2 linked regions of the Homo sapiens genome follow. The protein of the gene in region 1 interacts with the protein of each later gene in a pairwise test. Each region holds a gene or a part of one and is shown in the gene's direction. Other genes may lie near its edges.

Region 1 (5,322 bases):
TGTAAATGGACATACTTACACTACCTACTTGACAGGGTTTTGTGAGGATAAAATGAGTTAATACATGTAAAGTGTTTAAAACATTCTTGGCACCAAGAAAAAGTATGTAAGTGTTAGAAAAAAATATGCATATATAGGCCGGGCGTGGTGGCTCACGCCTGTAATCCTAGCACTTTGTGAGGCCTAGGCGGGTGGATTGCCTGAGCTCAGGAGTTCGAGACCAGCCTGGGCAACACAGTGAAACCTTGTCTCTACTAAAATCCAAAAAATTAGCCGGGCATGGCAGTGTGCACTTGTAACACCCCAGCGTTGGCAACAGATATCTTCTTCTCCCTTGGCTGCTTCAGGGTAGAGAAGAAACATGCTTGCCCCTTTCTGACTCTGTCATAACTCTTGCAGAATGTATCACATTATTTTACATCTTTCTTTTTTTTTTTTTTTTTTTGGAGGCACAGTCTCGTACTGTCACCCAGGCTGGAGTGCCGTGGCGCGATCTGGGTTCACTTGAAGCTCCGCCTCCCAGGTTAATGCCATTCTCCTGCCTCAGCCTCCCGATTAGCTGGGACTACAGGCGCCCTCCACCACGCCTGGCTAATTTTTTTTAAAAAAATATTTTCAGTGGAGACGGGGTTTCACCGTGTTAGCCAGGATCGTCTCTATCTTCTGACCTCGTGATCTGCCCGCCTAGGCCTCCCAAAGAGCTGGGATTACAGGCGTGAGCCACCGCGCCCGGGCTATTTTACATCTCTTTACATCTTAGTACTTCGTCCTGGCTGTTTGTTCCTTACTGGCAGTGATTTTTTTGGGGGGGCGGGGTGCGGGGGACGGATTATCCCTGGGTGGTCCAGGCTGGAGTGCAGTGGAGCGATGTCAGCTTACTGCAACCTCTGCCTCCGGGGTTCAAATGATCTTGTCTCAGCCTCTGGAGTAGCTGGGATTATAGGCGTGGTCCACCCCCCCACCCCTGTTTAACATATAATCAAGAAATAACCATAAAAATGGGCAACCAGCAGCCCTCAGGGCTGTTCTCTCTATGGAGTAGCCATTCTTTTATTCCTCTACTTTCCTAGTAAACTTGTTTTCACTTTATGGACTGGCCCTGAATTCCTTCTTGCTGGATATCCAAGAACCCTCTCTAGGGGTCTGGATCGGGACCCCTTTCCTGTAACACATATTCCAGTGGAATACGTTACATAATAAAGGCAGAAATTGCAAAAAATTTGAGCTTACAGTACAGGTAGTAAGTATTAGGGACCAGTAGAAAGGAGAAAGGTGCCAAGTTTTATCAAATGAGCAAGATATTTAAGGAATGAGTTTATCTCATAATGGGGTAAGGAAAAAAGCTGAGACTCTCATGGCTTCTTCAACTTGGTCCAGGGCTGCAGACCATTCAAGAGAAATTCAAATCAGGCATAGGGCCTCATCAACCCACAAACCAATTCAGCTGGTCTCAGCTTATGATACTTATAACCCTGAGGATACTTGAAGCCAAAAATGAAACATAAATTATCTTATTGGAACATCTATGTTAACTTAGTCCGTTACTTTTGTATTAAAAGTAAACACATGTACATACAAAACATTATGTGCGTAATAATTCATTTATTAATATTTTCTTTTGCCTTCTTATTTCTTGTTAGGTAAATTTTAATCTTCTCTTGTCTATTCCCCCGTGCTACCTAATGAAATTTCTGTTCTCAGTATTCAAGCTGCACAGCCTTATAATTTCTGCTGAAGGACACTTCAAAAATTTTAGGAGGAATATTCCGTCTTTGTTACAACTGAAGAAAAGCAGAGCTTCTTTTGCACCATAAAGTTGCTTCTGATATAGTGGTGGATTGAGACCTTTCACAGAAATGTCACTCTAGTGTCCAATGTGGGGACTAGGTGAAATTGAACTAACAATTGATCTGAATTCTGTTATTAAAGATGACTTTTAAGGCAACTATACATCTGATTGTTTTATTCTGAGAAATGATACCTATAGCCATTAAAGTCTGATTGAATGCCATTTTCTTATTTAAATGAACACATCCTACATTATGGTCAAGACTGCATACATCATAGAGAAAGTATATTGCAAAGAAATGTGATGCTTGGGTGGGCTGCTTTGGGCTATCATCCAGATTCCATGGGGTAGTTTTCCCTTCTAATGGGAATAGTTGGGTGTAGATGTTTGAGAAATACTAGATGATGTGATTGCTTGATGGGAAAACGCTTTTGTGCTTTAAACTGTGTTGGCTGGGTGCGTGGGGCTCATGCCTGCAACCCAAGCACTTTGGGAGGCCGAGGAGGGTGGATCACCTGAGGTCAGGAGTTCGAGACCAGCCTGACCAATATGGTGAAACCGTGTCTCTACTAAAAATACAAATAAATAAATAAATTAGCTGGGGGTGGTGGCTTGCGCCTATAGTCCCAGCTGCTCAGGAGGCTGAGACAGGAGAATTGCTTGAACACAGGAGGCAGAGGCTGCAGTGAGCAGAGATCCTACCACTGCACTCCAGCCTGGGTGACAGAGTGAGACTCCATCTCAAATGAAAAAAAAAAAAAAAAGGTATCCTCTAAGCCTAATGAAATAGAAAGTTTCATCATTACAGTTTCATTCTTTTGCTTTAGAATATTACACAGGCTTTGTTACTTACCCAGGACAAGCCATAATTTCTCTGAGACTCAGTTTTCTTATCTGTAAAGTGAGAAGAGTAACATCTATTTCACAGAGTAGGGATTAAATGATAAAGTGTATGTAGAAGAACTTTAAACACTGAGTAGTGCCTGCTGTCTGTAAGGCATTATTACAAAACTACCACAGAGAGGGATAACATTTGTTCACATCAGTTACACTTTTGTACATTTTAGATCTCTCGAGAGGAGGATGCTTCTGCCCATGAGAGACTCTTGAAGATATTAATTAAGCTCACAGATTTCTACTTTGTGTTTAGTGTTCAGGAAGTCCCCTTGAAATCACTTTTACTTTACTTTGACTTCAGTAGGAAGATAGTTCATAATGACACCATCAAAGTAAGTTTTAAGCGTTTCGGGCCTGCTTTTCTCAGGTTTGAGTTTTTATAGTTTGTAATGATTTTTTTAGTAAAATAAGGATATGATTAAAAGTTTTATATTAACTACTACAACTTTTAAGTATCAGTTGCTTCTACATAACCACTATGATATTTACTGTTCTGAACAATACATACTTCAAAGCACATGAAATTGAAAAAGCAAAGCATCTTTACTCTCTTCATAGAGAACAGAAAAAAAACTAAACTTTTAAGCATTATAAAATACTTTATTGAATAAAATGTTAGCAAGTCAGCAATTGATGAATAATTTGCTTTGAAACTTGAACTTGTAATCTGGCTAATAAGCACTAATTTACAAACTATTCTACATTGTAAAGGAGAAATGAATTTCTGGTGTTGTCCTTCTTTGATTTAGAAGCTTAACATCTGCAGGACCTAATTGGCCATTGATGTGAGGTTGAGGAAGAAGGAACCACATCGCAGGGAGAAAAGACTAAAGGAAGGCAGAGGCTCTAATATCAGGTCAATATAGGTCAGCACACTACCCACATGAAATGGCTTTGGCTGGGTTCCAAGGTCAAGTAAATAAGATCAATTTTTTCATTCCTTCAATTACATATTTTTTTGCTAAGCTTCGGTCATTCATGGTATACAATGCATCTAACTTGCTGAGCAAAATGCCAGACATGAAATAAATGTTAGCTATGGTAGAAGAGCTACAGTAACAGGTAACCTGAAACAGGCTGATAGCTCATAGAAGGGCATGCTTGAATTCGGGGAAAAAAAAAATCTCTGTTAAAATGGGATGCAAAACACTTTATACATTGCTTTTACAAAAGTTAGACTAATTTAAAGGAAAGTCTTCAAAAACAATCCGTGATCGATAAAATTACAGAAAAAAATCAGGAAAGGGGGAAATAATAAGGGAAGAAAGATTAGCAGAACAATCTTCCGCCCCAGTAAAGAGGATTGAATTTTAACCAATGAGATCACAAGTTTGAAAATTTCCTTTTCAGGCCCAATCAAGAGGAGACTATGTCTATAAATATGACTGCCTAGACCCTCTCCTATCAATGAGACAGCATGGCCCGTACTAAGCAGACTGCCCGCAAGTCGACCGGCGGCAAGGCCCCGAGGAAGCAGCTGGCTACCAAAGCGGCCCGCAAGAGCGCGCCGGCCACGGGCGGGGTGAAGAAGCCGCACCGCTACCGGCCCGGCACCGTGGCTCTGCGGGAGATCCGGCGCTACCAGAAGTCTACGGAGCTGCTGATCCGCAAGCTGCCCTTCCAGCGGCTGGTACGCGAGATCGCGCAGGACTTTAAGACGGACCTGCGCTTCCAGAGCTCGGCCGTGATGGCGCTGCAGGAGGCCAGCGAGGCCTACCTGGTGGGGCTGTTCGAAGACACGAACCTGTGCGCCATCCATGCCAAGCGCGTGACCATCATGCCCAAGGACATCCAGTTGGCCCGCCGCATCCGCGGGGAGCGGGCCTAAGGCATATTTTTAAGTGGTCGATCTAAAGGCTCTTTTCAGAGCCACTGCCGTTTTCATCAAGAGCAGCTGTACCGGCTCTCCATCTGATGTGCGTCTGCCTTGCGCAGCGGTCAGGGGCCAGGGGCACTCGTGGTGGGTGACGTTACAGAACCCAAAGCCCAGCCGTGAGTTGGCCGGCAGTAGAGAAAGCCGCAGAGGCATGGTCCTTGTGGTTCCGGCCGAGCGTTTTCACGCTGGTTTAAGGCTAGAGGTCCGGCTCCCAATTCTGTGGGTAAAGTTTTGCATGGGGGCAAGAGACTATGGGGAGTTTCTAGATGTGGAAGATCCTGAGTGTAAGGGTGGGGCGAGTCCCTTAAAAATTATAAACCCGTTTCCTGGTTTATTTAGGAACTATAAGCTTAATTAAAGCTCAGCATCTTCCTCATTGCATACTACAGGCGGTGTCCAAGCCAGAATAGTAATTTAAGCGGGCGGGAGTAAATATCTGGCGATTTTTAAAAATGGGTGAGGTAGTATTTCAAGGAAGAGAAAAAAATTTCCACAAAGTATAGAATAAAAATGCAAAAACGAGGCAAGAGAGTTAACTTGTCTAGCTGGCGTTAAGATTTCTTCCGTATGCAAGTCTAATGGAAAGTGAAAACCAAGAAAAAACCCCAAGCCGTAGAAACTATCGCTTCACCTAGCTTAAAACTGGTTAGTGTGAAATGGACCATTCTGATAGGATAACAAGACTTTTGTTACAGTGACCATTAAGGAAGCAAGACTAGAATCTATTATTTACATAGACTCCACCCCCTCTGACGACACC
Region 2 (7,284 bases), on another chromosome or scaffold:
CCTGACTGCTTTTCTGGCCCATTAATTTTTTTCTTGTGACTAGAATTTTATATCTTTTTTTTTCATTGTTGTTTGTTTTTTTACTTAAACTTCATCAGAAGCCTCTTCCCTGTGAATTAAAACCCCTTGTCAATTTCACACTCCTTGCCGCCTGACATCCCTTTCCTGTACATAACCCAGGGGGCAGAGCCTCCTGCTGCACAGCCCCTCCAGACCACCCCGCCATGTCCGCCATGTCCACCATGTCCACCATGCATCCGGGGGCATGGGGCCAGGCCTTTAGATCCTCCGCCAACCATGAGCCCAGCCGGTACTCAGAGCCTGGCTGCTGATTCACTAGGCATGGAGTTTCAGGAACGGTGGGGCTACCTGGATGACACCTGGTTGTGAGGATGTTCGAGTGGGTGCCAGCATCCCTGAACCTCTGTTTTTTTGTTTTGAGACGAAATCTCACTCTGTCACCCAGGCTGGAGTGCAATGCACGATCTCAGCTTAATGCAACCTCCGCCTCCCAGGTTCAAGCGATTCTCCTGCCTCAGCCTCCTGAGTAGCTGGGATTATAGGTGCGTGCCACCACACCTGGCTAATTTTTGTATTTTTAGTAGAGACAGGGTTTCGCCATGTTGGTCAGGCTGGTCTCGAACTCCCAACCTCAGGTGATCCACACACCTCGGCCTCCCAAAGTGCTGGGATTACAAGGCGTGAGCCACCGTGCCCGGCCCCCTGGACCTCTGACCATCAGTTTCATGTGACCACTGGGAGGCTGGCCCAGGGAGCTTCAGGGACTCTCCAATTAGCAAACGGCAAGGAGAACTAACAGGTGTGGCCACACCATAATCAGGAGACACAGTCTCCGTGACTCGAAGAAGCACCATGTTATTCCTTTGGAAGAGGCCCTTGAGTGTGGGCTGAGGCTCATAAAGGGACAGCAAGTCATCTGAGAGCACACAGCACGCTGTTGACCAAGCAGGACCTGGCCTGTGCATGAACGGGGGCTAGACCTGCAACGCTGGCCCTCCTCCTGGGGGGCCACATTCTCACTCAAATTGTTCCTGAGATGTCAGCTTGGTAGGTGGGTTCCTTGGGTCTGCAGGACATAAATCAAAGTAGTAAAAGTGGGGGCTGCTGGGAGGATGTGCTCCTTGAATGCTTCTTGTTAACCTCAACACAGAGATACACTCACACTTGCCCAGCTTTGACGCAGGGCCAGGGCTCTTCTGTGCCATCGGCAGATGGGAGTTCCATGCCCTCTTCTTTGCCCAGACCACACCCTGCAGGTTGTCACCGTCTTGCAGGCTGATTTCCAGCTTAGGTTCCTTTGAACGTGGAAGAAGAACATCAAAGCACTTATGAAACAATCTGAGCACAGAACTCAAGTTGTTTACGAGTTTCCGTCTATCAGCAGCATCTCACCCGCACCTGATTCCATGGAGGCTTTAAGTGGCTCACGTTGATCACATCTTTCCATAGCATTCAACTAGTTTTCATAGAAACAGCAGCTCTTTCTTCCCAGTGAGTGTAGCCTGTTTGCGTTAATTGATCTTGCGAGCTGCCTGGCATCCACAGGTGTGGAAACAAAGACAGCCAGCTCTTGGTCTGCCTAGCAGGTGGGAGCAGATGGGGGGTGACCGGCCCTGCCTCCTGGCTGAGGGTGGCTGGGGTCATAGGGATAATCTGTCCGCAGGGGGAAGTGAGAGGGCCTCCACTTACCGCTCACCTCCATCCATCCCACCTTCTCCCAGGACGAAACGACTCCTCAGGCATCCGCTTGTACTACACAGCCAAGCTGCGGCGCTTCAACGCGGGGATCATGGAGCTGGGACTGGTGTACACGCCAGTGATGGCCATTCCACCACGGGAGACCGCCTTCATCCTCACTGGCTACTGCACGGACAAGTGCACCCAGCTGGTGAGTGGGGCTGGGCCCGGCACTGCACCCTCCCTCCTCCCGCGTCCCTCAGTGGAGGCCTGGCAGGTCGTGGCCCACGAAGGGTGGCAGGCACAGCTTTGGTTTCCCCTGACCCTGAATCCCCCTGCGGTCCTCCCTCTTTTCTGTATGCAAGGGAACCCTGCTGCTGAGAGGCCATTTGTGTGTGTATGCACCTCCCTCTCCAGCAATAACCATGGCTCCCACTAGTCCACACCCACGTGCCAGGCTTCCACGAGCTGCATTTTAAAATATGCCTTCATTATGTAAGCAACACACACATGCACTTGCCACTCACAAGCGCAGGCACTGCAGCTAAAGAGAACGCTCCCCTCATCCGCTGCCGCCTCCCCCTGAGATAGCCACTTCTTGGCTCTTTGTGTCCTTCCAGACCTTTTTCCTGTATATTTCAGGAAGCTCTTGCAGGTGTTAGAAACCTTTTGTGTTTTTAAAAAGTTGTATTGAATAGTTAACAAATTTTTCAACAAATGGGAGGCATTTTTCTGGTGATTTGCCTTTTTATTGCTGCATAGTATTCCACAGGATGGGGTTTTCACCACGCACCTGAGCAGGGCAGGACTAGGTGAGGCAGTGAAGTGCCGGGTACAGGATCTCAGGGAGCACCCGTCCTCAGGGCTATGCACGCTGGGTGGAGGCACAGGTTGGCGCTTAGACTGGCGCCAACAGCAGGTCCTGTCCTTGGCTTCTGGTGAGTTCAGAGAGTGACTACTAAAATCTCCTCCTTTGCTTGCCCTATCTTGGTCCAAGCCTGTGCTGAACTGTCTCCCTATCAATCAGTGTCTAGGCTGTTCTCAACTTTTCACCAATAGAAAGAAGCTTCTGGGAAATCCTTGTCCATGTAGGAAACCATTTTCTCATGTAGATTTCTAGGCATGAAATTGCTGCTCAGAGATGTGAGTGTTCCCTTGAGTAAATCTTGCAAAATGCCCCTCAGAAAGCCCATCTTCTGCTCCCTCCCACACATAGGACGAGAGGGTGCCCGGTTTTACTGACCCACTGGATTATTAATATTGTAAATATTTTCTGTCATTTGGGAGGAAGACATGTCAGTGTTGTTTAACTTGAATTTTCTATTTGTGGACTTGAGGATCTTTTCCTCTGCCTCTTGGCCATTTGTTCCTGTTTTCTGTTCATTCCTATGCTCGGTTTTTCCAGTAGGTGGTTTGTTTTTCTTACTGTTGGTTTCTAGGAGTTCTTCTTATATGATGGATGTTATTTCATAGTTTGTGTATATGTTACAAACATTTCCTCCTGTGCGGTAGCTTTACTTCTCACAGTGACCTGCAAAGTAAGTGTTGACGTACCCATTTCACAGATGGGGAGACTGAGGCTTGCTGGGATCACACTGCCAGCAGTCACGCAGAGTGAAGATTCAAATACCAGTCTGTCTGACTTTGAAAGCTGTGGCCGTGACAGCAGATTTCGTTGTAATGAGGTTTAGAGTGGATTTTCCTTCCTAGTAAATGGGTCGATTGGGATTTGTTCTTCATGTGGGTGAGCCCCCAGAGCATCCCAGTCTTCCAAGCAAAGGTTCCTCAAGGCTGAAGGGAGACGGAGCTCTCAGCCGGCATGGCACCCATTGTCTCCGGCAGGAAATCAGCTCCTTTTGTCCCAGACGGGGGTGGACACTCTCTCCCACTTCCCTAAAGCGCCCACTGGTGAAGCGTGGGCCCATGTAAAAGGCACCTTGGCCAGGGCTCATGGGGAAGAGCGGCTTCCGGCCAGGCAGCACTCACTGCCCCTTGCAGGGCCTTGGGGCCTTCGACCCCGCTGACCGCTGACTGTGAGAACGCCTCTCTCCAGCCTCAGGAATACAGACCCGCCTCCCCTTGCCAGAGTCCTCCACTACCTTAAGTAACAGAATGAGAATGTTCAGTCTTGTCTCTCCTTTGGCAGATAAAAGAGGGGCACAAATTCTGCAGCCAAAATCTGGCCTAGTCTAGCTATCCCAGTGAAATAGGCCAAGACAAGAGTGCTGCTTTGGACCAGAGTGCCCAGAAGAGCATAGTCCTCCCTCCACCTGGCCGACACCTGGCATCTCTGGGCCAGGGTCGGCCTCTGGGGGCCAAAGGGGCATTGGGACCCTTTGGGCTCCCAGGCCTGGCACACAGTGGCCTCTCAAGCCATTGCAAGGGACACAAAGCTATAGGCGACGGCAAGGTCAGGGCGGCCGCTGCTTGGGAGCGAGAGGGAAGGAGCAAAAGTGAGTCCTAAAAAGCTCGGCCATCTGGGACCTTCAGGGATGGGGCTGTCGGGACCTTGAGCTCTGGGACCTGCTGACTGCATGAACAAACTGGGCAGAGCCTGGCAGCGGGTGGGCAAAAGGACAACTGACTCACAAAGAAAATGCTCGATTTCAGGAAAGACGTGTTCTTTTCTTTCCTTCTTTCCTTCTTTTCTTTCCTTTCTTTTCTTTTTCTTTCTTTTTCTTTTTCTTTCTTTTCTTTCCTTTCTTTCTTTCCTTCCTTCCTTCCTTCTCTTTTCTTTCTTCCTTCCTTTCTTTTTTTTTTTTTTTGATGGAGTTTCGCTCCTGTTGCCCAGGCTGCAGTGCAATGGCACAATCTTGGCTCACTGCAACCTCTGCCTCCCGGGTTCAAGTGATTCTCCTGTCTCAGCCTCCTGAGTAGCTGGGATTACAGGCACGTGCCACCATGCCCGGCCAATTTTTGTATTTTTAGTAGAGGCGGGGTTTTACCATGTTGGCCAGACTATTCTCAAACTCCTTACCTCAAATGATCCATGTGCCTCAGCCTCCCAAAGTGCTGGGATTACAAGCATGAGCCACCATGCCCAGCCATGGAAATGCATTTTCTATCTAAAAAAAGTTAGCATTAGGTTAGAGAAAACTTTCGTTCTCTGGAAGATTCTCTCATGCCCCAGTGATGGCATAAGACCTCTTGAGATGAGGGCTGCCATCTTTTCTGTGAGGCCGGCCTGCAGCCTCAGAGTGTCCAGCTGCAGCACCCCATGGTCACATCCATCTTGGTCCTGGATGACCACCTTCCAGTTGTAGCTACAGCTCCCAGCTGTAGCACGGGGTGATGCTGAGCACAGGGAGAATGCAGCCTTGGCTGCTTTGAAGCTGAAAGGAAGCCACAACGCAGGGCAGCTGAAGGTCCTGCTCGGCCCACCACGTAGGGGACCTGCCAAGTACCACCTTCTGCCACTTGCTTTTCCCTGGACAGCAAGCTCTTCAGCACAGAGGCCACGCGCTGCTCAGCTTGGTGGCTTTGCCACACCCTGTCCACGGGAGGCTCGCCTTAAAGGCCTGTTGACTGAGTGAAGATGAACCTGTCAGGCTTCAGGGGCTCAGGAGAGGATGAAGGACTCGGAAAGAAAGTCGCTCCTGAGTGGGACTAGGGGCTGCTTCTTTGGGAGCTGGGGGCTGTTGCGGCCCCCTCGCTCTTCCCCGTGAGGTTTCTGATGGTGGCTCTAACCTGGCCGGGGAGAAAGACCTAGAAAATGCAAGTGTTCCAGGGAAGCAAACTGCCCAGGGTGGCTGCTCCCTACCGGGTCCTGGCCATGGACGGGAGGGTCCCCTCGGGGGTCAGGCCCTGACACTGCAGCCCCCCGACCCCACAGGCACTGCCTCCCTCCGGGATCCACATCTTCGCCTCTCAGCTCCACACACACCTGACTGGGAGAAAGGTGGTCACAGTGCTGGTCCGGGACGGCCGGGAGTGGGAGATCGTGAACCAGGACAATCACTACAGCCCTCACTTCCAGGTAGGAACCTGCACCCCACCCCTGCCCCGCCCCCACACCCTGCCACCACACGACCTCCTGGGTCTACTGTTTCCTGACACCATAGGGATGGCTCCAGGCTGGCTTCTTTTTCCTGGGCCAGCCCCACCCGCCCCCCACCCATGTGGCCTGTGCTCCCCACTTGGGTGTCTGGTGTCTGATCGTAGGGAGGCCTCTGGCACATGGCAGATGGTGGTGGGATTCGGGAGACCCAGGCGGCCCTCTGGGAACATCAATCTTGGTCTTGGATAACCACCTTCTGGTTTGAATCTAATGCCCTCCCTGGCCAGAAGCCACACTTAGCGGGCTCTGGCTTCCACTGTAGAGGCTGGGGCAAAATGGACACCCCCAGAGGTCAGGGAGGCCTGAGGGAGGACACAGTGGCCGGGGGTCTGGTCTGCAGCTCTCTGAGGTCTCCTCTCCCCCACCCCTCGGCTCTGCCTGCCCCAGGAGATCCGCATGTTGAAGAAGGTCGTGTCGGTCCATCCGGTGAGTGCCCAGCGGGAAGGCTGTCCCACTCACTGCCACCAGCTGGGGTGGCTGAGAGGGCTGGGGGTGCCACCAGAAGGAGAGGGACACAGAAAGTGATAGGGGGAGGGAGAGCCATCCAGGGCAGGGGGAGGGTGCCTGTGGGTGGCTCTGGGCTGGGCTACCTCATGGGGAGACTCACTCAGGAGTTCATGGAGAGACGTTGGAAAGAGTGGAGCAGACAGGACACTCCCAGGGGACGCGTGTCCTCAGTCTGATGGGCCGACCACAAACCCGAGAGTGTTTGGGGGAGATGAGGGCACTAAGGCAGGCAGTGGAGCCCTGATCCCACAGAGGGCCAAGCCCAGGCCTCGGTGGGGACTTGCCCAAGTCCTTTGAGATGTGTCATGGCCCACCAGCTGCACCCCCACTGGCCTGGGCCCTGGCCCTGTTGTGACCCACTGGGTCACAGGAGCTGATGGTTTATAACTTGCTCGGGAACACTCAGCCTGTGACCTTCGCACATGAATCTGCTGGGCTCCTTGTAGTGGACGACAGGGACTGTACCCCAGAGGTGCCGTGGCATGCACAGTGGCGTGGTCCTATGGGGGCGAGGCCTCCAGCACCTGCCAACGCCAGGTGGCAGGTGCTGATGGTCACATTGGCTTTTCCTCAGGGAGATGTGCTCATCACCTCCTGCACGTACAACACAGAAGACCGGGAGCTGGCCACAGTGGTAAGTCACCCCCGCTTCCCCCTGCACCTGCCCAGGGCGAGTGTTCAGCCTGAGCCATCTGAGGAAGGATGACAGGTCTTGACTCCTCACTTAGGGCATGGGCTCGTCCCCTCAATAAGCCAGTCGTTCTCAGCTCCCTGAACCACAGTGGCAGCATCACCAGGGAGCTTGGGATGAATGCAACCTCCTGGGTGCCACCCCAGGCCCACTGAGTCAGAGACACAGGCGGTGGCATCGGGCAATCCATGTTTTAACAAGCTCCCAGCGGATGTTGACCCCTGCTCAAGGTTGAGAAGCACTCACACCAAGAAGCTTCTCAGCACCCGGGGCTGGTGTGGGGAGAAGCTGTAGGACAAGAGGTTGACCTTTGCCCCGTGGAGCTCAAGGT

Evidence for each region.
Region 2: the proteins of H3C13 (region 1) and DBH interact in binary tests that used the Homo sapiens proteins (3 or more experiments, as listed by UniProt).

What each region holds. Positions count from the first base shown.
Region 1 is NC_000001.11:149,812,463-149,817,784, reverse strand, and holds H3C13 (histone H3.2), read left to right. Parts: upstream 1-4,091; 5' UTR 4,092-4,103; coding exon 4,104-4,514; 3' UTR 4,515-4,560; downstream 4,561-5,322. UniProt on the Homo sapiens protein: Core component of nucleosome. Nucleosomes wrap and compact DNA into chromatin, limiting DNA accessibility to the cellular machineries which require DNA as a template.
Region 2 is NC_000009.12:133,646,104-133,653,387, forward strand, and holds part of DBH (dopamine beta-hydroxylase precursor), read left to right. Parts: intron 1-1,742; coding exon 1,743-1,909; intron 1,910-5,530; coding exon 5,531-5,674; intron 5,675-6,142; coding exon 6,143-6,181; intron 6,182-6,836; coding exon 6,837-6,896; intron 6,897-7,284. UniProt on the Homo sapiens protein: Catalyzes the hydroxylation of dopamine to noradrenaline (also known as norepinephrine), and is thus vital for regulation of these neurotransmitters.